Linked DNA regions of Homo sapiens. The protein of the gene in region 2 purifies or fractionates together with the protein of the main gene of each other region. This does not show direct contact. Each region holds a gene or a part of one and is shown on either strand. Other genes may lie near its edges. The genes, in order: TLE4, HLX, CEP120 and SEPHS1.

Region 1 (7,026 bases), on a different chromosome or scaffold from region 2:
TTGGCCAGGATGGTCTCGATTCCCTGACCTGGTGATCCGCCCACCTCAGCCTAAAACCGTATCTTTAAAATGCCTCAGCCACGGATCATACCTGGGAGGTGAAGTCGTGCTGCTGCAGCTGCCGCCCCTCGCGCAGGTCCCAGGACCTGACCGTGTTGTCCAAACCACCTGTCCAGAGCTTGGTGCCATCATTAGAAATGTCAATACAGCTGGCTCCATCTGTGTGGCCCTGGAATTGCCTGAAAATGTCAAAATGGAGGGAAAGCCCTTGAAAAGTTAGCTTTTAGTTAAAATCAATTTAGAATTCCTTGATGATTCAATTTCAATGCAGGCCTTATTTGTAGATTTCATTTTGGTTTATTATGGTTTCTAATTATTCAAAGTAATAACAAAGCATATACAAAGAGATGCCACATGTCCTGTACTTTTTGCTTGGTTTTGAATACTTAGGAATTCCTCAAATTACTTTTTCATGAAAACATGACTGATATTACTAATGGGAAAAAAATCTCTGAAATTAACAAAAGAAAACACGCCTACACATATATGCACTAACTAAAGATATATTCTGAGACCTATTCTATTACTGTGGTATGAGGGAGAGAGAATTTAATTTTCCCTTTAAAGAAGGACTGGGGATGGCACAGGGAGCGACAGGACCAGTCCTGCCAGTGAGCAGCAATGTGTCTGTGGGTGGCTGTGCAAGACGGAAGGCGAGGCTCTCAAGTAAGGCACCTGGAAAGACACTCAGTGTGAACTACTGGCCCAGGAATCACTCATGGCAAAACGTACCAAGGTCACCAGGAGAAAACAGGGTTAGAAGCAGCTTCTCATAAGAGGCTGCCTGATAAGCAATGAAAGTGATGATTTGTTTTGGGATCTATAGGTTTCAGTACTTTGAAATAACAGATAGTAAAGCCTTCTTCTTTTACACACCTGACTTGTAGCTACCTCTGGTTACAACCTTTTCATACCTGTAGCTGATCATTCTACTTGCTTGCTAATCTCTTAGGGTATTGACACCTAGAAAATCATTTCAGAGCTTTTCCCATCTACCAACACCAATCTTTTATAATCTCATTTGTAAAGTTATATCTATCCAACCTCAAAGGTGGGACAACAGATAATCTAGACCATTTCAGAGTGAGTTGCACCCAATACAGTGCATAGGCCCATGGGAGTTGCTAAATATCTGCTGAAGGAATGAACCTGTTAGATGTGTATGGCACTCAAGACAGTACCATACACTGTGAATCTTCTCAGTGAGGCTCTATCAACAATAATCGTTTGTTAGCAAGCACAGATGGCAAATTACAGATGTCCATGGAGCTCATGGGGTCATGGAAACTTTATGTACATTAATTATGTCAAATTGACCTCATTTTATTAAAACAAATTGGCGATGCTTTAGTATAAGTCAAGGAAGGAAAAAAGACCTCATTTTATGAAGTTCAAGTACTACAGAAAACAAGATTTTCACACTGATAATTTATTTTTAACATCTTAAAATGGACCTGTTCTGAACAATTTTTAGTAAGATAATTATATCACTTTACACACACACACACACACACACACACACACACACACACACACACACACCCATACCTATATACACAGCACTTTGGCAAAATATGGTAAAATCGGCTCCTCCTCACAACCTGGTAACAGATCCTGCTAACCTACCTCACCAAGGTCTGGTTGTGCAGATCCCACACAGCGATGTTGCCGTCGCTGCAGCATGAGAAGCAGACCTTGGAATCGGGGCTGATGGCCAGGGCATAGCAGGCGGGGGCCGAGGATGTCAGCTCTGCCTTGATGCGTGGGGTTGGAGCCGCCAGGTCCCAAATGGACAAAGTACTGGCTTCCCCTCCAACAATTAGGGTGCGACCATCAGGGAGCAATCTGCAGGAACGGATGTAGTTATCCCTGTTCTGTAGAGACAAAAACCATCAAGAGATTACTCATGAGGAAAGGAAAACAGCATTAACATGAGAGCAGAAATCCATAAAAGTATTGTGTTCCCTCCTGGTTTAATGAGCCGTTTATACTTATGACAATGATAAAGTGGATTAATGCTAGAAAATTACATGAAATTAGGGAAGTACTTAAAGTTGATCTACAAAATGTAGTACTGAGATATTTAATCTTAATTAGCATCAAAATGCAAAGCTCTAGACCCACTCCCACCACCACCAAATTAACCAACTGCTTGCATCATTTGCACACACAGATACACACGTACACTAATGCAGGAGCTCTCACAGTCTTGGAGTATCCAAACTTGGAACCTTGGTAGACTCAGGCTCAGTTCTGCTGTTGAAAGGTCCTGCTACTGATGTCAAGAAAGTTTCAGGGGGTAGATCCCTGGCAGTCTGTTCCTTTTGCCTGGGCCTGCATTACGTGACTAAAGGGCATCATGCATTTGATGAAAGCTGCACCAGAGGCAAGACTTGATCATGGAGTGTTAAGTTACAGAAAAAAAAAGTTCCTCCTAGCTCATGAGGTTACGGGAATCTTATGTATATTTAATTATGTTCAACTGATGTAGCCTCATGCTATAGCAAAAATTCTACTAAACTGACATTTCCTAAGGAACTCAAGGGAAAAGGCCAATGAAGCAGCTGAGGGGCTATCTAGTATTTGCCACATGAGGCAGTAAGTTACTCTTTACATGTGACAGATGATATTTAGGTGCACACTCATAGTCACTGTATGGGCTCTTAGTTTGCTTAACCATCAGAGAGGAAAACAAGCGGTTTGCCTTTTCCCATGGGAGGCAGAGTTAATGAAATCAGTATGGTGCACATGCCACACATGAAGAACTAGATCACTGTGTGTCTAGGAAGCAAAAGACACACCTCCAAGTGAAAGATCGCAGTCCCCTGAAGAGCAACTATCCACCTGGGATCAATACTGTGTGGTGTTGCTCATACATACAGTTCTCTCATCAGCCCCTCCTGTTTTCTGAATGAAAGTCTAAGTCTTGTTCATCCATGTTCACTCACCAGACAGTCGAGCTGGGAGACAGGACTCTTATTGCCTGGGTGGCTGATGTCCCAGACCTTGACGCAGCCCTTCCCACCCGTGTACACGTGTCTCGTGGGGTTGCTGATGGTCACCGCGCACACCACCTCCCCGTGGTTGAGGGTGTTGATCTGGCGAGCATGCCGGGGGATTCCAGGTCCGATGAGGGCGTCGGGTGGAAAAGGGACAGGCTGCATCTGACCATCTGCGCTAACATGGAAGGAGTATGCTCTAAGGCAATGGAGAGGAAAAAAGAAAGAGGGGAATGTAAAAAAATGTCACTTAACTGTTCAGTGTAATGAGATGAGAAATAAAACACCTTCAGTGCCACTTGTGATTTACGAACAAATCGAATTTGTCCATACAGTGTAAAGAACATAATTTCCAGAATCATACAGCTAGGCTGCTACAGGGCCAGATCTCAGGCTGACTCTGTACAAGCTGCTGTGGGACATCAGTAGTTACTTAGAATCTCTAAACTAGAACAGCAGTTCTAGTCTCTAAAATGAAGAGAACACTACCTATACCTCACAGAATTAAATGAGATAACCACCGTCAAGTGCAGTAGCCACCTTTCAGGGATGCCCTATAAACCTGCATTGCCTTCTCCTTTGGATGAATCAGAGGCCTGTGATGAGACCTCGCCTATAGATCAATTCATTCCCGGCAAGGGACTTACTAAGGGAGATGAGTAGGCCAAAATCAGGAAGCTTTAAGGAGTTAAGAGCCTCTAGGCTTAGACGTTGAAATGACAGATGTGCCAAAAAAAAAAAGATAAAGCCCTATTTTAAAACCTTGATCAGACTTGACAATCACAAATCCTAGTCAATCCAAATGGAATGAGAACCTAAAAAGGCATCCTGACAGCCCCAAAGGCCTACCTGTGAGTATCTCTTGGCAGTTCCATCTCCAGTTCATTTCCAGGGAAAGCCCTCAGGTGGTAAAAGCATTTGGTCCTAAAATGCAACTTAAGTAAGAGCGTCTCCCCCAACAGACTCATTTTTATTTTTAGGGCACTGAAGTCAGGAAGGGACGAGTGAGGCTGTTGTGACGCATGTTAGGTTTCTGGAAGCAGAAGACGCCAGTGGCAGGCAGGAGGCAGCTGGGCCTATCTTGGGGACTATCATAGGCAACAGCCCATTTTGGAAAAGATGCTACTCTACTTGGGCACGGAGCTTGGGAATCTGCTCTGCTTACAGAAAATAGTTTACAAAAGACATACCAAGGGAAAGCATTGTGGGTGCGTAAAGGACAGGAAGCTGGACCAAACTGCGGAAGTTGTAGAATTAAATTAAAACAGTTTATCGTTCCTTAATGCAAAAATTTACAGGCTGGCCATGTTCATCAAAATTCAGTCCATTATTGAATGGTCCTCAACTACCTGAATGCTCCCAGAAAAAATGACGCATGCATTGTGGCTGTGGAAGATGAGGGCACTAGACAGTGGCGGGCTTTTACTTCCTCCACAGACTACAGAGCGTTGTAGAAGAACATAGTATGTGAGACTTGCTGGAGGGGAAGGAGGTGGGAAGCTAGGAAGCCAATGGACAGAAGACATTTCTTGCATCAAATCAACAGGACTTGGAGATACACTGGATGTGTGACCTGAGAGAGAGATGCTGAAGAGGACCCTAGGGCTAAGAACCTGGGTGACTAGGTAGACTGCATTACCTAGTAAAGATGACAGGAAAGCATAACTCAAGGGTACACCTATGGGGAGGTGAAGGAATTGGTTTTCTTGAACTTCAGGGCAGAAATCCAAACAGCTGTGATTCAGGAGAGAGGTCAGGTTAGATATCATCCATAAAGAAGTGATGGCTGAAGCTAAGGGGACGGAAAGAAGAATCCCAGAGCAGATTATGCAGTGAAAAGCAGACCAGATACAGAATCCCAAAGAATGTGGACATTTAAGGAATCTCCGGCCAGAGTAGTTATGGAAGTAGATTATTAGCAGAGATAATAAAATAGAAAGGGGGAGAAGATGTTCAATCACATGACAATTTACTAAGATTCATTCACTTAACACATATTTCTTGAGTATGCCAGTGTGCCAAGCATTATGGTAAGAATGGAATAAGAAAGAAATGCACACACCTTGTTCTCCTGAAATTACAGCCTGAGGGGCACATTCATTAGTGAGATATGCACATAAGTAACTATCAAAATGTCAGATGGTCAGTGCAGTGAACAATGCATGGTAGTCTAGGAATTTAACAGAGTGAAAAGGACAGAGAAAATGGCAATAGGGCTGCAACATAAAGAATGGGTACGAATTGTCTGAAGACAGTATGATGATTAGGAATATGGCAAATTCGAAGGCCAGAGCAAGAAAGCGTGCTAATTATTCATTTATTCAGCAAATACTTCCTAAATGCCTCGTATGTTCCAGTTACCATCAGGTGCTGGGGAATCAGGTGAACAATACTGACAAAGTCCCTATCCTTCCACTAGTCTACATCCTAGAGAGGAAAACAGGTAACAGATAAACATAAATACCTGATAAACACCTCAGACAGTGGAAAATACCATTAAATATACACACACATTTTCAGATAAAAGAGAGTAGGGGAGCACACAGTGGCAGTCAGGTGGCCCTCTCTGAAGAGGCAGCATATGCGCGGAGAGCTGAAGGAATGACACAGGCCTTACAAATAAGTAATGGGGAACGTGCCAGGCAGAGGGAACAACAAATGCAAAGGCCTTGAGACCAGAACGAAGCAAGGAGGCCAGAGTGCATTCGGTGGAGAGCATATAGGATATAAGAGTGAAGGGACAGGCAAGGCCAAACTAAAAAGGGCCATATAGGCTGTGATGAGTACAGATATGATTCTGGAGACTTGTGCAAAAAAAGTGACATGATTCAGTTAACGTCTTCAAATGATCTTCTGATTGCTGGGTGAAGAATGGAGTGTAGGTGGCAAAACGAAAGACAACTAGTCTGGGGACTACACAGTAATCTAGAGGAGAAGCAGTGGCTAGAGCCTGGGAGATAGTGGTAAGTTGGAAATAGAACGTGGAGCACTCTGGCTGACTGGAGCCACAGTAGGTTGTACTGGATGGGACGCTTAGAATCTGGAGGTGACACAGGGGTGATGATAAGCTCTTCTTTGTGAACCTGTAAATACAGGTAACTGAAGGTGAGGAGGGCAGATGTTCACTAGAGATGAGGGGGTCCAAGACCATGATGAAGATACTGGGGGGTTGTCTTTGTAGATACCAGAGTCAACCAGGATTATGGCAGCCTCTGGGTAGTGGAAGACTCTCAGCCATGTATCAAGTCTTTAATACACTGGGGAAATACTCCCAACAAGGTGGAAGAGGGGGTAGTCCAATGGCACGAGCCTGAAAGGAGCAAGGTTTTCACCAACAGGTAGAAAAGTTCTGTTCATGGAGAGGCTGGAGAAGGGGTGGCAACCACAGCTGTTATTAACCCCACCGCTGGTGCTGAGGTCAGTGAATGAAATGGAAAGGTCACCCTGTATAGGGCTGCAAGTGAAGGGATGATCTCAGGAGACGGCCAGATTTCAGTTCAGACAAGGAGAAGGTGGCAGTAACGCTTGTGAAAGGCTGAGGTTCTGAGGGATGATGGCCGAGAAAAAGGCTAATTGATTTAGCAATTAGGAGGTCATGAAGACTAAATCTTAAAGGAAGAGAAAGAAAGATTATTCCAAGTTTAGATGGTGTTATACATTCTTAATGATAATTTATTAGAAAAGCCATCTCATTCTCTAGTCTAGAATCACTAAATGGTTATTAAAGAGCACTGAGATTTCAAATAGTTAAGAAACCAGGCACACAATTTCCTTCAAGGCCTTCAACAGGACAGCCTTCACCTCAACAACAACCACTCTGTGAGCACCTACTATGTTCCTGGCAAGAGTCCTTTCAAAGAGTCCAAATGAATTCCAAGAGCCTGCTTTCATTAATGACATTAATGTGGCCCTCTGTTTGCTATTAGTATACATAGAAGGCACTCAGAACTGGAAATAATAAAGCTCT
Region 2 (7,114 bases):
GCGTTTGCACCGCAGGAGGCCAGTCGGCCGGGATGGAGGGGACCTACCAGACTAGGCCGTGCGCTGCTGCCCGCCCGAGGGCGCTGTGCGCTGGAGCCAGAACTGCCTTACCTGTGCGTCCGTGAGGCCCAGCATCGCCGCCAGCTGCTTTCGGTCCGGCTTGGTCACGTACTTCTGAATCTCAAACCTTTTCTCCAGGCCTTTCCTCTGCAGGTTGGAGAACACAGCGCGCGACCATGAACGCTTCCTTTTGTACGTCTGCGGCATGGTGTCCTTCGTGAGCACAGCATAGGGACCTGCCGCAGAACGGGAGCCAGAGGGAAGAAAGACAAGAGGGCCGTTCAGTGTCCAGTCCTTGACCTGCCAGCCTGGGGGTCCCCGTAAGGCTTGAAACTGTTTCGTGTTAACTGTCGATTCCACCCTCATTCAGAAAGCCCTTCGCACATACACCGAATGGCCCCTCTAAGGAGGAATTTTACACGACAGTCGGAAGACCTAAAGCGAGCGTGGAGTGGAGAAGCCTGGCGGCTTGTCCTTTAATTCCAAGAGAAAAACATAAACCTCATGCGTGGCCATCAGGCCTACGAAGAGTAGACAAAAATGTCCCTTGGGCCTGAATGATGACAGCCCTGAATTGAATTATCTCGTGTGTGTGTGTGTGTGTGTGTGTGTGTGTGTGTGTGTGTGTGTGTGTGTTTATTCCCGCATGTGTCCAGGCACCCAGACATAAACTCGCCAAGCACAAGTGTTTGAGGTCATCCCAAAATGTGTATATGCTAATAAGCAACATTGATGCTGCATTTTTCAAGCCCTCTGGGGCGAAAAGACTTCGAGAAAGCCCCCCACCCCACCGTCCACGCACACACTTTCTGGGATCTCCAGGCGCCTCTACCCCTTTTCAAGGGGAACCATCCGAAGCGAGCGCTAGCTCGCTGAGAAATCTTTCGGTTTCTCTCTCCTGACTCCGTAGCCTCCCGCCCCAATTGTGAGATTGCGACACCGTGGCAGCCCTGGAGGCGTCAGTCCTGAGATTTCTGACTGTTAGTCGGCTCGCCCGTTAGGCAGTACTCTGGAGTTTTTCCGTACCTGGAAACGTGTCTTGGAACTGATGCTGAACTGAATTTCTTGGGTTCGAGTTTAAGGGACTCAGGATTGCAGAAGCCTCGTTAATGGGATCTAGAGATGCGAAGAACTGGCCGGCCGAGGGCTGCAGGCCTGAGAGGTGCACCCCGGCGGGCCGCCCACCGGTTAGCAGGGAAGTGAGATCTGGGGACAAGGGAAAAGGATAGCAGGTTACATCTCGGGCACACTCACACTCTCCGCTGATTTGTTCCTCCCCTTCCCCTTGCCCTGGATTCACTTTTATTGAGCGAAGTCAAGAGAGAACCCGTCTAGGCGCTGAAACCTCTCTCTCCCAACAGTTGCCAAGGAGCGACGCACGAAAAGTTCCTGTGTGTCCCTCACGTCCATATGCATGTATATAGTAAGTAAAGGCTTTACATAAATCGGCTTACGGCCTCACTTTCACGTGTCTTCCAAGAACGCCACAGACGCAAAACCTCCGCCCCAAGGTGGCCCCACTCTGCCCGCTCATCTAGGCGGTTTTGTTTATTATTTACATTTCCTGGGTGAAATTTTTACTAGAAATCAGATAAGTGCGAAAGTGTTTCCCAAAAATGCTTTAGCTGTCAGAAAATATAATTCTGTCTCTAGATACATTATTAAAGAGATCAAAGTCATGTTAGCAGATAATTACACCAACCACTTTTATAAATATTGATTCTAAGACGTGTTTTTAAAGAATCCCTGGAGTCATTTTTTGTTTGTTTTACATAGAACAGGTGAGTTTTAGACCTAATGTTTTGTAGTTTTCTTACAATTCGTTTTCTTCTCTCCCGTTTTACCGATTTGTCCTTAATTGTAAAAACACTCAAAGGCACCCCAAGCCAGCCCGGGGTCCGGGGAGTGGGTCAGTGGTCAGAGGCCTGCAGCCTCCCGCCCAAGACCTACCTCTCAGCGTGTTGCCTTCTTTGACTTTTGGGTCAAATTCTGCAGATAAAATGCGGTCAATTCCAAATTTGAGGTCTTTGCTGGAGGGGGCCGGGGCAGAGCCACTGTGGTGGGGGTTCGGAACCACTCGCGTCCCCGAGGCCGGGGGCTGCAGGGCGCCAGCCCGGGGCGGAGGCGGAGGCTGTTGCTGCTGCGGCTGTTGCTGCTGCTGTTGTTGTTGCGGGTGATGGTGGTGGTAGGCGGCTGAGAGCGGAGACAGCCGCTGCGGGAAGCCAGCCGGGACTTCGGAGGGCGCCACCACTGGGGTGGGTCGAAGCGGGGATCTGGCCGCCGCTTGGAAAGAGGCGTGCGGGTGAACCGAGCCCAAGTGCGCGGTGAGGGCGGCGGCCGAGGCCCCTGCCAGGCCCTCCGGGGCCGCCCCCAGATCCCCCACGCCGGCGTGCAGAATGTCTGCGATGCAGAAGGAGGGCTTTTTGACGGCGGCGGGGTCCAAGGGGAAGGAGCAGCCGCCTGGGCCGGCCGAGGAGCAGTAAGCGGCCGACCAGAGGCTGAAGTTGGAGGCGTAGAAGGGAGCCAGCCCGGCTGCGAACATCCTGCCGGGGTGAGCCGCGCGGCTGCCGCAGTCCAGCCGGACTGGGTGGGTGGGCGCGCGGGGAGGGGCGCGCGAGTCCCGGAGAAGGCGGCGGCAGCCGAGGACGATCCGCTTTCGCTTCTCCGCCCGCACTGAGGAAGAGAGGCCGGGAGCCCTAGCGCCACCGAGGGAGGAGGCGAGGGCCGGATCTCGGCCGGTCACCGCCTCGCTCCCTGGCCTCGCTTTAAAGGCGGCGCGGCGCCCGCACTCCTCGCGGGCTGGATGAGAGCGAGGGGCGCTGGGGCCGCAGGGCGGGCGGGGGAGCCAGGGAGACGGGAGCCGGACACCGCAAGAAAACCCAAATAGCTAAGCCCTAAGAGCTAAATTTAAAACAACAACAATAATAGTCCGTTAGTTAGGGGGGGGGAAAAGTAATAGAAAAAAAAAAAAACTCGTCTCTAAAAACTCCCAAAGTTTTGGCAGGAGCTTTCGAGTCAGGCCCGGGGTAGGACCTCGATCCGAGCGCTCATTGGTCATCCTCGTGACCAATGGGAGCGGGGAGTGGAGGGGAATTAGGAACAAGGGGGCCTGGCCGGACCCTAGCCACGCCCCGGCCACGCCAAAGTTTTTGCTGCGGCCGCGTGGGCTTAGTAGCGCACATCGCAGTGCTTCTTGCTACTCTGCGTAGGGGCCAGGCAGCCGCTCCGGAGGGCTCTGACTCTCTTCTAACTTCTGCAGCTCCGAACCGCCACGGGGCAAGGAGGGTTGATCACAGGAGCTTTCCTGAAGCGCTTGTCACCCGGGGCGAGTTGGGGGCGTGGGGAAGGGACGGTAATCTCACTCTTTAGGGCTCTGCAAAGCCCGCCTCCCGGTGGAGAGCGGAGCGCGCTTTGGCCCCTTTGCTTCCCTTCTCTTGACCTCATTCTGCTTTTATTCCAGGAGTCCGTGTCCTCGGCAAAGCCCCTCATCTTTCCTGGGCCCTTGCCCAAATGTTGCCGCCCTGAGTCCCGGCCCAACTCAGCACCGCGTCCGCCTCGTGCCTCCCAGGAGATCCTCCGGGAAGCGAGGAGGAGGGGCGGCCGCAAATTGGTTTTATTCTGAGCTGTCACACAGTGACAAATTGAACGAGTGACTTTTCAAACAAAATAAGACGGATGGCTCCAAACGTCTCTCTTAGACGCAGCCAAACCTTTCCCCGGAGCCTCAGAGGCTACAAAACAGGCTGCCTCCCGAAACCCGGGAGAGCGGCACGCGCTTCCATCCTTTGCAGGAGGTTGTAGGAAATGTTAGCCTCACCCCTCCACCACATCTCCGGATCACGTGGGGTTCGTTGTTTTGCAAGTGCCCACAAGAGCAGATTTCCGTGGGGTTCAATACTGCTTTCAATTCTGTGACAGCTTCCCCAGGAACCCCTTGGGCCTGGTTGCAGGAGGAGCTGCGTGGTGGTCAACGTCTTCCATTCGTGCCTTGGGTCTTTAGAACGCAGGGTAGTGGTGGTGGAGGTTTTGTGCAACATCGACATATCTATTTTAAGAATTTCTTCTCTTTAAATTATAGTCAGAATGAATTTCCCCACCCCTCTCCCAAACAAACCACAGGCCACCCAGATGAGCTGTTCTTGCACATTTTCAGGAAGAAAATAAAATAATACGAATAATGAAACCACGAAAACTTTTGTTTTCGATTGCCCTAATAAGCATCTCCTAACAGGGATTCTGTGACATTTTTATTTCCCTTCAGCACGAAGGCTCCTCACCAAATAAACCCAGAAAAGCAAGTGAACTTGCCATGCCTATCTCGAGTTCAGGGTTTGGGCTTATAAAATTAATTTCTGGTGTTTTCTCTAGCCCCTTGATGCAGATGCTATCCTTTTAAGCTTTTGACTTTCTCCTGGAAAATTATCAATCACTTCTGATCAGCCAGCACTAAGATCTCTCCCTCTCCCTCTCTCTCTCCCTCCTCCCGCCCTCCAGCTCTCCCGCTCTCGCTCTCCATCTCTCTTTTACTGAAAGGTTTTCTTCCCCTGCTCCACGCAACCAGGAGAGAGGTGCTATTTCCAGAGATAGATGGGTGTGTTTGGCTGAAGGTAGGGGTACCTGGGGCGAGAGACGTATTAAGACCAGTTTTTCTGTGTCAAGGTGAAGGCAAAGGAGCGACAAGTACAACATGGGCAATTGAGGCGCTGGCTGAGGGTTCTGGTGAGCCTTCGGTGGGAGTGTGCGTAGCGGAGGCCGTGAGCCCTCTGCTTTCTAGTGCCACTTCCAGTTTGATTGCGTTTCTAATTTGACTGCAAACATTTAGACCTCAGCCTAAGCCCAAACTCACGGTTGTGAAAGAGGTGCATTTACTCCTTACCCGAGGCAGCGCCGCGCGCCCTCACCCTCTCTCTTAAGAAATAAGACTCCCCTATCAGCTTTCACCCTTTCCAAGGTTTGCGACGCTCCGGGGTGGGCACGGGATACAGACCCGGGGGAATGCGAGTCCTCAGGGTTCCCTAGGTGCCCACAACTCGCATCTGCCGAGATTCAAGGCCCGGAGCGCTGGGCAGATGCGGCGAAAGCGAGGCCCCGAGGCCCGCCGACTCCTCGCGGCGCCGCGAGCCTCCCTTTCTCCGCCAGGCCCGCGGCTGGAGTGCAAGTTGCAACTTCGCCTGCGCGCCCCTTGCTCTCCCAGGCCTCAGCTTCCTCGCAACCGCGTCGGCGCCATCCAAGGCCTTACTCCCAGCTCCCGGAGGCAAACGCGAAATACAAGTCTTTGGAGCGACCCCCGCCGCCCCCTCTACCCCTTCCCCAGGCCCAAGCCTGGCCCCTGCAGGCCCCTCGCCGAGTTCTGAGCCCGCAGACTCCCGCCCTCCTTACTCCCCACTCTTCAGAACCAAGAAAGCAGCAGGAAACCCTGGGCTCGCCGGAGTTCAGGTCATCTCCTGTTTTTTGATGGGCTCAAACTCGGGACTAAATGAGCGGATGTGCCTGCGAGATTGGTCTCAAAATAGAAGCGGCCTTAGTATTTTAGGATACTGCAGAAATCCTTATTTCTTCCGGAGAAAAACTCTATAATGACTCCTAGCACTTCCCCTTTCAATATTTGTGCAACTTTATCTCCACCGGCAAGTTGCTCGGGTGACGCAAATCCGCCCTTATGTATTACAACTACCAAAATAAATGCACGGAAATCAATTCCCTTCTAGCAATGAAAATATAAATATACAGCTGCGACTTTCCCCTTTAATCTTTGCTTTCCGAGAGGCTCCGGGCTGTGGCGAAATGAACTGGCCCAGAGCTACTGAGCCGGGCAGGGAGGTCCTGGGGGTAGAGGCGAGGGCTCCCCAGGGGCTGGTAGCCATGGGGGTTGAGAATTTAACAGGAAAGAAAAGGGCCTGGCTAAACCGAATTAACTTGAGCTTGGTCTACGCAGCGGAGACCCTAACTGTGGCCTCTTTTCTTTGGAAAATATCGCATTGGCTGGGGTTTCTGATCATGCTGACTGCTGTTTTTAATGCTTTCAACTCATCCCTTCACTTTTCCTAGTTAAACACAGCCAAAGACGATTTCACCATATTGGGAATGGATAAGATCAGAGAAGGTTCGTTTTATAATTTAACAATATAGCTTATGGGGATTTAGGGTTTAAAAGGGTCCTGAATCAGGGGCTTATGCAATGACTGAGGCAAGAGATGGGTTTCACCATCCTTTGGTTCTACCTGTCTTTGGAGCCTCCATATTTAAATCATCAGTGCAGACTTTTGTCCCAAAACCAGAGTCACAGATCCACACTGAGCACAGGTCAATTATAGTGAATGCTGGGCCTTGTATATTACAGGACCATAACTCTTCAAGGACTTGAACTGGCTATATCTGCTATCTGTGTTGCTTTTTCTTGTGCATTCTGGGTAAAATAATGTGCAAGGCAGTTGCTCTGTGGACTTCGGAACCCCTCTCCTCTTAATTTCAAATATTCTTGCAAACATGGTACCTACTGGCTTCAAGAAAAGAGATGTAAATAATTAAATATTTACAATCAGAAAGAAAAAGAAACACAGCTTATCCAGCTACTTGAGAATTCAAGAAATTTGCAGCAACGTAGGAATCTGTGTATATTGTGCCTGTCTTTCTGCCAGCTGGAGACTTATGGATCACTGGTCCCAGCAGTCATACTTAGTGGTGGATATGGGAGTTCTGTTCTTTGTGGGTGCCAGATACTAGAGATTAGGACTCTAATGATCCCCCATAGACACACCCCCTACCCACACACGCATACTTTGGCCTATTCTAAGTAGGACACAACTCTCTTTCCTTGGAGACCTTAGAGTTATTCCAGAATTTCTGAGTTTTTGAGAAGAATTGGACTTTGCTATGGGGTGGGAAAAGCAAATAATGCAATAGGGCTACAAACATCCATAGCTATTTGATTTATTCTTTTTCCTTTTCTCCATTTCCCAGATGTGGCAGATTTGCAGGTGGCCAGCTCTCTATTTGGCTGTGGCCCTGCCCTTGAACTTTATCCATAGGTCTTGCTCCAAAGTTTCAGACAGCC
Region 3 (7,026 bases), on a different chromosome or scaffold from region 2:
CTTCTAGAATAGTATATTCAGCCACCTAAAATATAGTAAAAAAAAAAAAAAAAAAGTTACCTACCTTCTCCCAAACTTAAAACACACACAAATTCAAAAATACACATCATTTCACTGAAACAGAGGACCTAAGAATAGGAAAGTCACAAATTACATCCGCCAATTCAAAGAAAAAAATGTGCTTTTATGAATTTGAGACTGGTGATGGTCATATTTCCTCCTCTTGGTCTTTTTTCTTCTCCAAGATAAACACAAATTTTAACTGTTATTCACATATTATGATTTCCACATCCTCTAGTATGTTAGACTTAATCTAAATTTACAGAGGATGGAAACAAAAGACTGCTAAATTTGAAACGCATATGTAGTGTAAGCAACTAAATAGCCAAGTGTGGAGTCCAGGGAAGAAGTCAGGGATGGGGGTGCGTGTGGTGGGTGTCTTGGTGTATATAATGCCAAGAGAGTGAATGACATCATCCAAGGAGTGAGTATACAGAGAGAAGAAAGGATGGTATTTGAGGACTGGGCTGTGGGACAAGCCAATAAAGCCAACATGAGGAGAATCTAGCATGAAAATTAGGAAAGAGAGACCAGTGAAGACAGCGGAACACAACAGTAGAAAAGTGTAGTCCAAAAAAAAAATATAGTCAAAGAAGCCAAATAGAGGAAGTGTTTCAAAGACAGAGATAAACCGGGTAAGGATGAGGAAGGATTGTTTGTTAAGACAAAAACTAACTGTTCTGGCGAGTGAGAAAATGAATTGACTAGGGAAAGCAGTAGGATTGTGAGCAGCCGTGAGGACGTCTTAGCGCTTGAGGTCCTAAACCTCCTTAAAATCATCTCTTTACCACCCATCTTTTCTCCATAACCTTTCACTACTATTAGTTTTTGGCTTTCGTTTTTTATACATATTGCTTTCCTGGTCTCCTGGACTTTAGTTTCACATTCCTCTATTCTAGCCACTGTACCTCCATCAGAATTATTGTTATAGAATGAAAACCTAATTATTTTATATAAAAATCTTCATTTAAAAAATTTCTGATATTTCTACCGTTCTCAACCAGGGTTTATCATCTGAACCACAAAACACAGAAAATGATTTAATTATTTTCTCCATCCTCTCCTAAAATGGTACATAACTACCATTTTAGATGCATAGGATAAAGTTAATTTATTACCAATAATGGATCACTTAGGGTATTAAGGGCTTCATTCTCTCAGGAAGGCCTGGCTAAGAAAAGCCTACAGTATCTAGTCTAAACTCTACATAATGGATTTACGAGATCATTTATTCTCCAGGGTATCAACCTCTCTTACCTTATTTCTTGAGGCACACTCTTTCCTCCCCTCTTCCAACATCAAACTACATATAATTTTCTTAATGCAGAGTGTATTTCAAACTTCTTTGCCTTTTCCTCAAGGGGCTGTGTCCGGAATACCCTTTGAGTCTACCTGGCAATATCCACTAATCTTCACCAAAGTGAAAGCATGATCTTATCTACAGAACACTTCCTTATGTAGAACTGATGTCTTCCTTCTCTGTGGGTAATGACTATCTTCAGCTATCTGACAGGCAGTCATATGTAAGACAGAGTATATCTCAGTTGCTCCAGAGGGCAGAACAAGAACCACGTATATATCTACTCCTTCAGGTAAATTTTCAAAGTGTGAAAGAAGTTATACATCGTTTTTTAAGACAAATCAGGTAAATAAACGAAAAGGCTCACATATAATTGACATTTAAAAAATACTATAGTGAGAGTCTCAGGGTATTTAGCTTTAAAATATTTCATCATACTGAAAAACAACTTTTTTTTCTCACTACTGACTTGATTTTGTAGTGGTTGATAAAATTTAAAAGAAAAACTGATCCCATGCAAGACAGGATACTTTAAGACAAATGAATTAAAGTATTTGGTCTCAAAAATGCACTTAGGTTGAAAGAAAATGGCAAATCTCAATCTCAGATCTACCTTTATCATATGACTAATTTGAATAAACAGCACAAACACTTATTATGTAGGCATCATATTGTTTTCTGACTGGAGTTATTAACTAGCCAGGAACTCATCATTTCAGGCTGAAAGGGTAGAAGTGTATAAATGGAAACCAATTACAAATTTTAGCTGAAAAGATCATTATTACCAAAATGACAACAAACCAAAAATTACTTGGTGAGTTTTCACAGAAAGTTTAATTATGGCACAAAGTGAATTTGTCACGGTTCTAGTAATTTTATTAACTTTTCAAGTATTTCCCGATTTGAATTTTGCAGACCTCAATACTAAAATACTCTTCAACACAATGAAGAGAAATGATTCAAGGATAAACTCATCTTGTCTTAAAGGCTAGGTTAAAAATTTTAAAAATTAAAATGGTATTTTCCAGCTCCCCCAGATTCAATGAATATCTAATAGGTGAGGTCTGTAAATATTACTTAATATGAAACTCACTTAATAACAGGATAACTCGCATAATGTTAAAATGTATGTCAGGGCTTCTAATTATTGTAATTTTGGTTATCTGAACGTTTCTAAAGAATAGAGACTTTGAAATACTCTTATTTTTGTCTTTCAGCTTTTTTAAAAGTTCACTGGTTATTCAAGTTTTTAATGGTGAGAATTAAGTTAGAAAAAGCTGATTTGGTTATTTTAAAATCAAAGGCCTGTGTACTTCTGTTTCCACCCATAAAAGACAAATGGCCCTCCTTTATAAACACAACTTAAACAACATTTATGAAACAACTGTTTTTAGACATTGGGCAACAGGCAGCACAGGACAATGATCCCTAAAAGGTGAGAAATAAATGAGGCAACCACTACAATATATCTAGCTTACTGCCTGAAGACTGTAGTAGCTCAAGGAAGGGGAACCCAAACAGACACTAGCAATCTTGCTGAGCTGAGAAAACGGAATGGAGACCAGAGAGGCTGAGGCAACTAGAGTTGATGAGAGGAGGGGGTTATAGAGAGAAGGAGCACTGGAGCCCTGTAGAGCCATCCCCTCAAATCTGAAGCTGAATACTGATTAACCACTAATAAGAGTATTTCTAAAGTCCTAAAATTATTAATAGAATATTTGAAGAAAGTCTGTTAGGGTTGTTTTATTTAATAACTTCAGTGTAAATGGATAAATATTAAGCTTTTGCTTCAGGAATAAAATCAGATGGTCTCATGTTATCATTTTTAAAAATGTAATTTATTTCATAATTCTTAAAAATAGCTTAAACGTTTGAGGCATTCTATTAACTTACAGATTATAATATGTAGTTTTATATATATTGAAATGTGCTTTTATTTCTTTTTTATACATCAGCAGGGTTTTTCTCTATTCATTTTTGTATATTCATATACACACACACATATTTTTTTTTAAGAGATGGGGGTCTCACTATGTTGTCCAGGCTGGTCTCAACCTCCTGGCCTCAAGCAATCCTCCCTCAGTGCTGGGATTACAGGTGTGAGCAACCATACCTGGCCTATATTATATATTTTTTGAATAGGTAATACATTTGCATATTCCAAAAGCACAAAATACTTTACAGTGAAACGCCTCCCTTCTCTATCCAGAGCCACCACTCACTTCTTCCATGCCAACATATCACCACTAAAATTAGTTATTCCTTCCAGAGACTGTCTTTAACGCAAATACAAGATATTATCATTAATATTCTTCCTTCTCTTCCTCACTTTTACACAAGTTATTACCTTTTTCTTTACTAGTGATTCTCTTTCTCGGTCCCTTTTCTTCCATTCCTCTGCAAGAGCCTGCATATGAGCCAGTTCTTTCTGCTTCAGCTACAAAAGGAAGAAAAATAAAGTCGCCAAAAAACCCCAAATATGTCAAATAAATGAATCAGTTGTCAGTTAAATAACCGATGCTGATCACTAATATGATTTTTTCAGGCATTCTTTTTTATTCTAAAAAAAAAAAAAAAAAAAAGGAGGATGCCTGAGGCAAATAATGCCCATTTGAGTTCACTTCAGGAAACTATAAAACTAACAGTGGGTTGTGCTTTCTAACTCTTGTTTGGAGACTAATGATGCAAGGTTCCAGGAGGGCATGCCAAATGAGGACATGAAATTTAAAGAGTAACTTCCCAATTTTACCCAATAATCATGAACAAAGTTTACAGAATTCTGAGTGGCTTCTGCCAAGGTGCCACATTTCAGGTATTTTTTGATTCTCAAATTTTTTTAAGTAAAGCATTGTTGACATTCAAAGAAGTTAGATAAGGTACCTACAGAACATAGAGATTAAACCTTGCTACGGAGAAGGAAAAATATACAGAGCAGACAAAGCAGATTTTTTAAAGTAACATTTAAAAAGTAACCTGATTTTCAAATATATCTTCTTGCATCTCCTTCCACATTTCTAGCTCAAGTGCTGCTTTGTATTCTAACGTTTCACGAGGCTCTGTCTGGATCTCTGAAGGACAAGGTGCTGGAGGAAGAGAAGACGGCTTTTGCTGTACGGCAGATACACCCTAAGAGATGAACCAAAAAGTACATTTAAACACTCACACACATATGCACATTAGATTCCTTTTAAAAAAAATTTGATAACATTCAATTATATTTACCTGAGATGAATCAGAGATAAAAATCTCACGCATTTTTACTAGTCCATAATCTTCTAGAGTCACTGTGTAAGAAAGATCTGCTATCCTGTTATTTGATCTACAAATAAAATAAGAAATACCTTAAAATTCACAGAAATACTTTATATTATTTTTCCTTTTATTTCCCCAGTGCTTTAGCAATGGGAAGTAAGCAACATTTTCTGCTCCTAACTCTATTGTTTTTGAAACTGCAGCAACTTCTGTAGGCTTCAACACCTTCCATATATATATAAATTGATCATCACAAACACCCTGCTAAATACACGCATACATTTACTACAAAATGACCCCTATGAGAGCTTTAAAAGGTATAAAGGTGAAATTTAAAATCTTACTGCCCACAGGTAATTATTGCTAATATGTAGTTTATTTCCCTCCTGTTTTATTTATATATAGATATACATGCACACATGCATGCTGACTTCATACAGTTTTGTCTTGTTTTCCTATTTACATCAGGGGCATTTTCTCACATCATAACATTAATTTAAAAATGTGATTTTTTTTTTACTGCCTGTAAAATATACAAATGAATTTATGTAGTAAAATATACTTAACAATTCCCCTACTCTTGATTATATTGGTTATTCTGAATTCTTTTTTCTACTTTTCCTGGGATGTACATACTCATAAATATTTTACTAGACATAAGCAATGCCTCTAGGCCTAATTGGCACATAAGCAATGCTTCTAGGATAATTATATGTTAGTATGAGCATAATGAGCACCTCTTTGTATCATACAACTGCATGCAGCATTTGTCATTAACCAAATGAGAACAAGATAAAATATTAGAAGAAAATAAAATGCTAGTAATACAAAACCATGGTTTTGTCTAAATCAAATATACTCTGGTCAAACAAAACTTGAATGAATGGTTCTCACACAATTAGAACTCTTAATTAACCAACTTTTGTATTTTCTTCTTCTAATCTCACAGATTTCAGAAGAAATGAATAAAGTTAAATGAAGCACTACTGTATCTGACAGAAACTCCTGAGAGTATCTAAGGTTCTCACTTAAGTAAATCTCCTAAAACTTTCTGTCTACAAAGTATGGCAATAAAAGTTAATATTCATAACAAACGGGCAGCATTAAAATAGCTTCAATTATTAGTGATTTTATTATCTTCTACTTACGACAAAAAAATGCTAATTTTTAAGAAAGATTCTTCAATAATAGGAGTTGAAACAAAATGGCCATGAATGGTGAGGAATAAGGAAAGACATTTCAATACTTTTAGAGCTAAAATTTCACTGAGCCTTGTTTCTCTTTTTTTTAGTCTTATCTTTAATGATAAAGGGCATATGATATATAATGTTAAGTTAAATTTTAAATTTTTATTGTTAATTTTGAAAGGATAATTCAACAAATATTTTACTGTATTTAAAATATGTTAAAAAAACGCAAGTTTTTCTTTGTGGCAATGAAGTTCAGGGCAAAAAACCAATAATTATTTTAAAAACTGCCTCTGACTGCCAAATATCTATAATGTCCTCAGACTTTTGATTTGGGGTAGGAGTAAAATATTTTAAGTGGAAAAACAGTCTTAGCCATTCCCAGTGCAAAATAATATAAAATACATTATAAAGTTTAACCTCAAATTACAAAATAAAAAAATAGATCCTGCATTTAAAATTCTCAAGCTAGAGAGAGGAAGGAAAATAATTAGCCATCTGAATATTACAATACCATGGTAACACAGACTCTTGACTTCTGTGAGGTGAAATCAGTATCAGAAAGCTAAAGGGCAAAGTGGGGTATAGCTGCCACAGGTCAGAGAAGATCAGAAAAAGGAGGTTATGAAAGGGTGAAGTGGTGGATCAGAAAAAAGAGGTTATGGAAGGGTGAAGTGGTGGCTGACTAATCAAAATCATTCCATGAATTGAAAAGAAAAGCAAATACCAATTCTGTGAAATGCATTACCCTTGTGCTGCTATAACAGGCACACTTTCACTGTAAGTTTGACGCCAACACTGTTCACCATTAGAACCTAAAAAACGAGTTTTTTCTGAAGACAAGATGTTAGAAAGCTGGATTCTCGCAATTCCCAGAAGTAAATCTTTACTCATTTTATCCTTGTGCCATAGTTCAACCAGTAATGGAATCCTAAGGAAGAGAGAAACATGTGTTCATACCTATCAACTCTGACCTAAAGTCTTTTCTGAACTAAATTCTTTGAATTCCCTCAATGGAGTCAAAGATGTTTTTTGTTACCTGGAATGTCGTCTAACACAATTGTTAGACTGAATGCTAAATTTCACAGGCACCAAATATGAAATGATGTTTCCATCAATGATGAACCTCACATACAATGATGGTCCCATAAAATTATATCATATTTTTACTGTATCTTTTCTGTTTAGATACACAAATACTTACCTTTGTCCAACTGCCTACAGTAT
Region 4 (7,026 bases), on a different chromosome or scaffold from region 2:
TGTGAATAGTGCTGCAATAAACATATGTGTGCATGCGTCTTTACAGCAGCATGATTTATAATCCTTTGGGTATATACCCAGTAATGGGATTGCTGGGTCAAATGGTATTTCTAATTCTAGATCTTTTTTTTTTGAAACTGAGTTTCACTCTGTCACCCAGGCTGGAGTACAGTGGCACGATCTTGGCTCACTGCAACCTCCGCCTCCTGGGTTCAAACCACTCTCCTCAGTCTCCTGAGTAGCTGGGATTACAGGCGCCTGCCATCGTGCCCGGCTAATTTTTTGTATTTTTAGTAGAGACAGGGTTTCACCATGTTGGCCAGGGTGGTCTTGAACTCCTGACCTCAGATGATCCACCCGTCTTGGCTTCCCAAAGTGCTGGGATTACAGGCATGAGCCACCACGCCCGGCCAAAAGACTGACTTTTCTTAACAAGACATCAAACATGGAAAGTGACAACTTGGTTAGGAGAGAAACTTCTCCAAAGAAGATACACAAATGGGTAGTAAGCACATGAAAAGATGCTCGGCCTCATCAGTCATCAGGCAGACACAAATCAAAACCACAAAGACATTCCACTTCACACCCAGTAGGCTGGCTAGAATCCAAAAGACAGACAGGAAAACAAGTACTGGAGGGGTCATAGAGAAATTGGAATCCTCATACATTGCTGCTGGGAACGTAAAATGGCGCAGCCATGTTGGAGACCAGTCTGATGATTCCTCAAGTTAAACATAATTACCACATGACCCAGTCAATTCTTAGGTATACACCCAAGAGACCGGAACTTATGTCCACACAAAAACTTAGAATGTTCATGGCAGCATCATTCCTAATAGGTGGAAACAACCCAAAGGTCCGTCACCTGAGGAATGGCTAAATAAAGCAGGGTCCATCCATGCAATGGATTATACAGCCATGGAAAGGAATGCGATACCGATTCATGCTACAACACGGATGGACCCGGAAAACATTCCGCTATGGGAGTGAAGCCAGACACAGCATGTCATGCTGCACGATTCCATTTCTATACAATGTCCAGAACAGGCAAATCCTTAGAGACAAAAGCACATTCTTGGTTGCCAGAGGATGGGAGCAGGAGGGAAATGGGAGTGAGCTACAGGGCTTCTTTTTGGGGTGATGAAAACATTCTGGAATTGGATAGTGGTGATGGGTGCACAACCTTGTCAATACTAAAAACCAACACATTGTGTACTTCAAAATGCTGAATTCTATGTTATGTGAAATTTTGTTACGTGAATTATACTTCAACTAAAAAACCTAAAATGTCAGCCGGGCGCGGTGGCTCACGCCTGTAATCCCAGCACTTTGGGAGGCTGAGGCGGTCGGATCATGAGATCAGGAGATCGAGACCATCCTGCCTAACATGGTGAAACCCCATCTCTACTAAAAATACAAAAAATTAGCCGGGCATGGTGGCAGGTGCCTGTAGTCCCAGCTACTCGGGAAGCTGAGGCAGGAGAATGGCATGAACCCGGGAGATGGAGCTTGCAGTGAGCCGAGATCATACCACTGCACTCCAGCCTGGGCGACGGAGTAAGACTCCGTCTCAAAAAAAAAAAACAAAAACACCTAAAATGTCTTAAAAATAGGATTAAAATACTGACACATGCTACAAAATAGATGACCCTTAAAAGTATGCTAATACTATGCTAAGTGACAAAATCCAGGATGGAGCAGGAGTGAACAGTGAGAGCCGAGGAGGATGGGGTTTCTTCCTGTAGCAATGAAAACATCCTAACATCAACTCCGGTAATGGCTGTACAACTCTGAGTATACTCCAAACCACTGACTCTTTAAATGGGTGAATGGTATAGTACGCAAATTATATCTTAATACATCTATTTTTTTTTTTTTTTGAGATGGAGTTTCGCTCTTGTTGCCCAGGCTGGAGTGCAGTGGCGCGATCTTGGCTCACTGCAGCCGCAGCCTCCTGGGTTCAAGTGATTCTCCTGCCTCAGCCTCCCAAGTAGCTGGGATTACAGGCATGTACCATCATGCCTGGCTAATTGTGTATTTTTAGTAGAGATGGGGTTTCTCCATGTTGGTCAGGCTGGTCTCAAACTCCCAACCTCAGGTGATCCACCCGCCTTGGCCTCCAAAAGCGCTGGGATTACAGGCATGAGCAACCGCGCCCAGCCTTGCGTTCTTGTCTTTTTTTTTTTTGGAGACAGAATCTTGTTCTGTTGCCCAGGCTAGAGTGCAGGGGCATGATCTCAGCTCACTGCAACCTCCACCCCTGGGGTTCAAGCGATTCTCCTGCCTCAGCCTCCAGAGTAGCTGAAACTACAGGCTTGCCCCACCATGCCTGGCTAATTTTTGTATTTTTAGTAGAGACAGGGTTTCGCCACATTGGCCAGGCTGGTCTCAAACTCCTGACCTCAGGTGATCTGCCCGCCTCGGCCTACCAAAGTCTGGGATCATATGTGTGAGCCACTGCACCTGACCTTAATACATCAATTTTTAAAAAGAGAGGACAGAGAGAGAAAAACAGGTCAGGTGATATGAAACAAAAATCAACTTACATGATAAATTCATTGGGTTGGCAGACAGTGGTAGCCACTCCTCCCAGGACAATCCAGGGGTTTAGTACTGTTTGGCCGCCTGTTACAGATGTTCCTGCTTCCTCAGCTGCGTCTTTAAAACCTTGGATAATCAGAGGCATCACTTTATCCCTTTCCTAAGGTTGAAAAAGGTACAAATAAAAAGTCAAAGAATTCTGTTCAAAACCCAGAAAAGAAGGTTTTTACACTTACAGTTATAAAAAGAACCATAAAATCCTAAAGGAAGTCCTCAAAGTTTACAGACAGGGAAGGTTGTTAGGGGCCAGGCATAATCGCTCACGCCTGTAATCCCAGCACTTTGGGAGTCCGAGGTGGGCAGAGAGCTTGAGCCCAGGAGTTTAAGACCAGTCTGGGCAATGCAGACAGACCCCTTTCTCTACGAAACATGTAAAAATTGCTGGGTGACCGGGCACAGTGGCTCATGCCTGTATTCCCAGCACTTTGGGAGGCTGAGGCGGGCAGATCACCTGAGGTCAGGAGTTTGAGACCAGCCTGGCCAACATGGTGAAACCCCGTCTCTACTAAAAATACAAAAATTAGCCGGGTGTGGTAGCATGCGCCTGTAATCCCAGCTACTTGGGAGGCTGAGGCAGGAGAATCGCTTGAACCTGGGAGGCAGAGGTTGTAGTTAGCCAAGATCGCATCACTGCACTCCAGCCCTGGGCACAAGAGTGAGACTTCATCTCAAAAACAAAAAAAAAAAATATTGCTTGGTGTGGTGGCATGTGCCTGTGGTCCCAGCTATTCCGGAGGCTGAAGTGGGAGGATGTCTTGAGCCCGGGAGGCTGAGGCTGCTGCAGTGAGCTCTCATCACACCACTGCACTCCAACCTGGGCAACACAGGGAGATCTTGTCTCAAAAACAAACAAAAACAAAAGCTAGAAAATATTTCACATTGTCATCATTTTATCCAATGCTGGAAGATGTTCTAGACAACAATGTAAATAAAGCCCAGACACCAACATTGTCTGGACTCAGTGCACAGGACCAGCCCTAGGTCTGATGACTGCTGGAAGCCAGCTGTCCAGTGCTCCTTGAGAATCTCAAGACTGGCTTCCTAAGCACAGGTCCCCTGCCCTGCAGTAGGCATCCATCCTACCAAGGCTTGGCTGCAGGCTACGAGTAACCCACACTGACAGAGCCTGCGCCAAGACCACCATGCACCACTGATGACTACAGCCCATGTTCAAGGGCAGGAAAGAGCCTACTGGAAACTCAAGTTTCTCTAAGGCAGGGCAAACTGTTGGGGGCTCTTGGGACAAAAACAAGTACCTGTCTATCTAAATAGGAATTCATCTCTGGTTCAAAGAACAGGTTCAGGCAGCAAGGGCACAGAATGCTAGGCGATGACACAGAGGCGTGAGCCCCTGGTGGCCCTATCCCCCGTCACCATCTACGTCCACGACATCCCCAGCCACAGCAGAGGGAGTGCCCTCTAAGTGCCACGTGTCCCACATCTGTAAGGCTGTGCCTGATTCACACTGAGGCACCATTACTATGGCCAAAACTTTATTTTAAAAAATGCACAGGTCGGGCACGGTGGCTCATGCCTATAATCCCAGCACTTTGGGAGGCCGAAGTGGGTGGATCACGAGCTCAGGAGTTCGAGACCAGCCTGACCAACATGGTGAAACCCCATCTCTACTGAAAATATAAAAATTAGCTGGGGGTGCTGGTGTGCCCCTGTAATCCCAGCTACTTGGGAGGCTGAGGCAGGAGAATCGCTTGAACCTGGGAGGTGGAGGTTGCAGTGAGCTGAGCTTGTGCCACTACACTCTAGCCTGGGTGACAGAGTGAGACTCTGTCTCAATAAAACAAAAAAAAATATACACAAATGCCTTGGGCCGGGCACGGTGTTTCACGCCTGCAATCCCAGCACTTTGGGATGCCGAGATAGGTGGATTACCTGAGGTCAGGAGTTCAGGAACAGCCTGGCCAACGTGATAAAACCCCGTCTCTAATAAAAATACACAAAATAGCCAGGTGTGGTGGTACGTGCCTGTAATCCCAGCTACTTGGGAGGCTGAGGCAGGAGAATTGTTTGAACCCGGGAGGCGGAGGTTGCAGTGGACTGAGATTGCGCCACTACACTCCAGCCTGGGCGACAGAGTGAGACTCCTGTCTCAAAAAAAAAAAAAAAAAAAGTCTTGGTTTCAGTCTACTGGGAAGAGAGAAAGGGAGCAGGTGGCAGAAGTGCAGAGATGACTAGGCCAGGCTTCCTCATTTTAATTTACTGGTAACTGCCAAAAAGTGGAGAGCCAGAAGGAGTGCAGGGAGCCATATGGCCTGGGCTCCTCGCTTTCTAGATGGGAAACCAAGTCTAACCAAGGCCAGAGATGCCACCGGGACAACACGGACCAGGCAGCAGCCGGGTAGCTCCTACTTACCCTGTCGGTCATTTTATTACTGACTCCAAGGAGCATCAGCATATTGTCACATTCCGTGACCCCCATTGCATAGAGGTCACTGAGGACATTGGCACACGCTATCCTGCCCTGGGAAGAGAGGGAAACATGAGAAAGGACGACCGGGGACTTTCCATCTGCAGAAACTGAGTGAGCCATGGAGTGGACTCCACAGAGAACGTGGAGACTTTCCAGGAGTAGCAGCTACTAGGATGGGGTCCTCAGTTTCTATGATTTGCAGACTGGCAACCTTTCCTGCATCACAGAGTCACTAGGCCATTCGTTTTTTCTCAGACATTCCTGTTACCACCTCTTTCTTGTGCAGGACAAAGAATGTACCAGTTTTTCTCCATTCTAAATTTTAGAAGTCTGCAATTTATTTAGATAGGGGAAGGGGTATATGTGCAGCGAATGAGGAGGAGAAGCAAGTTTAGAACCGACAGTCTTGGGGGAAGAGCTATGGAGCGAAAAAGCCTGCAAACAACTCTCCTAAAGAAAAGTTGGAAACAGCCACATATCCCAAACAGATTCTAAAAATGGCTGGCTTTAGTGGTTATAGAGATGGAGATAGTCTTTGTGCACTTGGATTAAGAAATGTTTGCAGCTTAGGCTGGGTGTGATAGCTCACGCCTGTAATCCCAGCAATTTGAGAGGCCGAATCAGGTGGATCACTTGAGGCCAGGAGTTAAAGACCAGCCTGGCCAACATGGTAAAATGCTGTTTCTACTAAAAATATAAAAATTAGCTGGGCATGGTGGTGCACACCTGTAGTCTCAGCTACTTGGGAGCCTGAGGCATGAGAATTGCTTGAACCTGGGAGGTGGAGGTTGCAGTAAGCTGAGATCGTGCCACTGCACTCTAGCCTGGGCAACAGAGCAAGACTGTCAATAAACAACAACAAAAAAAAAACAAAAAAAATTTTTGTAGCTTCTTTTCAAGGATGTATGAGATAAACAGAAAAATCATCTTAAGAAACAAATAAAAAAATACCCAGGGCTGAAGTCATATTGTTTTCAAAAGAAAAAGAAGCATTTCCCAGTAAATGATGTCATTTTATTAGGAACTTTAAAATACAATTCAACAGAAATGTGGTAATGAAGATTTTTTTATTGCCACTGGAGATTTTTAAAAGTTAAGTTGCCCTTATCTAAATTTTTATCTTTTATAGACAATAAAGAGAAAATACAAATTTTCCTTCTGACATAAGGATAATCAAACTCCCAAGTGTTATCACTTCCAGTGGCTGTTTAATTGCTTGCTTTAGGCTTTCTTATACATTCCTGGAGGTCAGCAATGCAGCTCAACAACCATCTGTGGCCACACTTTCAGTATCATCAAGCCAGTCCACAAGGCCAACAGGTGGTCTACAACTCGCACAAGCCAATCGCTAGTTAGGGGGGTGGTGATTTAGCGCCCCTTCTGTTCTGGGTGCTCTCATTTTAGGAGATGCTGGAAAACAATGGACTGTGGTTTTAGCCATCCCTGCCACCTGGTCATGTGGGACCTGGGCTGTGGCTTACCTGCCCAGTCTCAAGAGTATTGCTCCAGAGGAGAAAACGGACAGATGTGCGGAAGAAATATAGGTTTCCAATAATCTGGTATTTGTCACTGGTACCTGAGGGTGAACACCCCCCACGTGGCTGCCTCATGATAAAGTCCCTACAGTGCAGCCTGATCCCACTGTCCTTGCCACACACGAAGAACACCTGGCATTTTATAGCAAACCAGATTTTCCTAGTCTCTCCACTGGCTCCTCCTGGGTGGTAGCAAATTGGGGTTAAAGGTTGGGTGGATCAAAGGGTGGCTGGCTGCAACTACGCAGTAAACAACTGGGGAACACACCTCAGCAGTGTATCATCAGTAGCCAGGAACTTTAACTCAGTGGTCAGAAACCTACTATGTACAGCGGCACATCACACGGTGGTGGGTGTGCAAGTGGCTGGGTTGAGTGAATTAACCAGATATCCGAATTAATGTTTGAGGCATCTAATTGTGATGAGATACTAGCTCCTTAATCTCTTGAAGGAAACATTTAG

The links.
Region 1: the proteins of HLX (region 2) and TLE4 purify together in Homo sapiens (affinity purification with mass spectrometry; 2 studies listed by BioGRID and IntAct, with this or other methods). This does not show direct contact.
Region 3: the proteins of HLX (region 2) and CEP120 purify together in Homo sapiens (affinity purification with mass spectrometry; 2 studies listed by BioGRID and IntAct, with this or other methods). This does not show direct contact.
Region 4: the proteins of HLX (region 2) and SEPHS1 purify together in Homo sapiens (affinity purification with mass spectrometry; 2 studies listed by BioGRID and IntAct, with this or other methods). This does not show direct contact.

The regions. Positions count from the first base shown.
Region 1 is NC_000009.12:79,714,954-79,721,979, reverse strand, and holds part of TLE4 (transducin-like enhancer protein 4), read right to left. Parts: intron 6,668-7,026; coding exon of another isoform or gene 6,499-6,667; exon of another isoform or gene 4,842-6,498; intron 3,984-4,841; coding exon of another isoform or gene 3,909-3,983; intron 3,259-3,908; coding exon 3,009-3,258; intron 2,408-3,008; coding exon of another isoform or gene 2,342-2,407; exon of another isoform or gene 2,256-2,341; intron 1,935-2,255; coding exon 1,687-1,934; intron 240-1,686; coding exon 92-239; intron 1-91. UniProt on the Homo sapiens protein: Transcriptional corepressor that binds to a number of transcription factors. Inhibits the transcriptional activation mediated by PAX5, and by CTNNB1 and TCF family members in Wnt signaling.
Region 2 is NC_000001.11:220,875,346-220,882,459, reverse strand, and holds the start of HLX (H2.0-like homeobox protein), read right to left. Parts: upstream 3,018-7,114; 5' UTR 2,603-3,017; coding exon 2,011-2,602; intron 1,267-2,010; coding exon 1,087-1,266; intron 297-1,086; coding exon 112-296; intron 1-111. UniProt on the Homo sapiens protein: Transcription factor required for TBX21/T-bet-dependent maturation of Th1 cells as well as maintenance of Th1-specific gene expression. Involved in embryogenesis and hematopoiesis.
Region 3 is NC_000005.10:123,378,404-123,385,429, forward strand, and holds part of CEP120 (centrosomal protein of 120 kDa), read right to left. Parts: intron 6,731-7,026; coding exon 6,548-6,730; intron 4,680-6,547; coding exon 4,583-4,679; intron 4,487-4,582; coding exon 4,334-4,486; intron 3,798-4,333; coding exon 3,708-3,797; intron 26-3,707; coding exon 1-25. UniProt on the Homo sapiens protein: Plays a role in the microtubule-dependent coupling of the nucleus and the centrosome.
Region 4 is NC_000010.11:13,331,271-13,338,296, forward strand, and holds part of SEPHS1 (selenide, water dikinase 1), read right to left. Parts: intron 5,081-7,026; coding exon 4,973-5,080; intron 2,702-4,972; coding exon 2,547-2,701; intron 1-2,546. UniProt on the Homo sapiens protein: Synthesizes selenophosphate from selenide and ATP.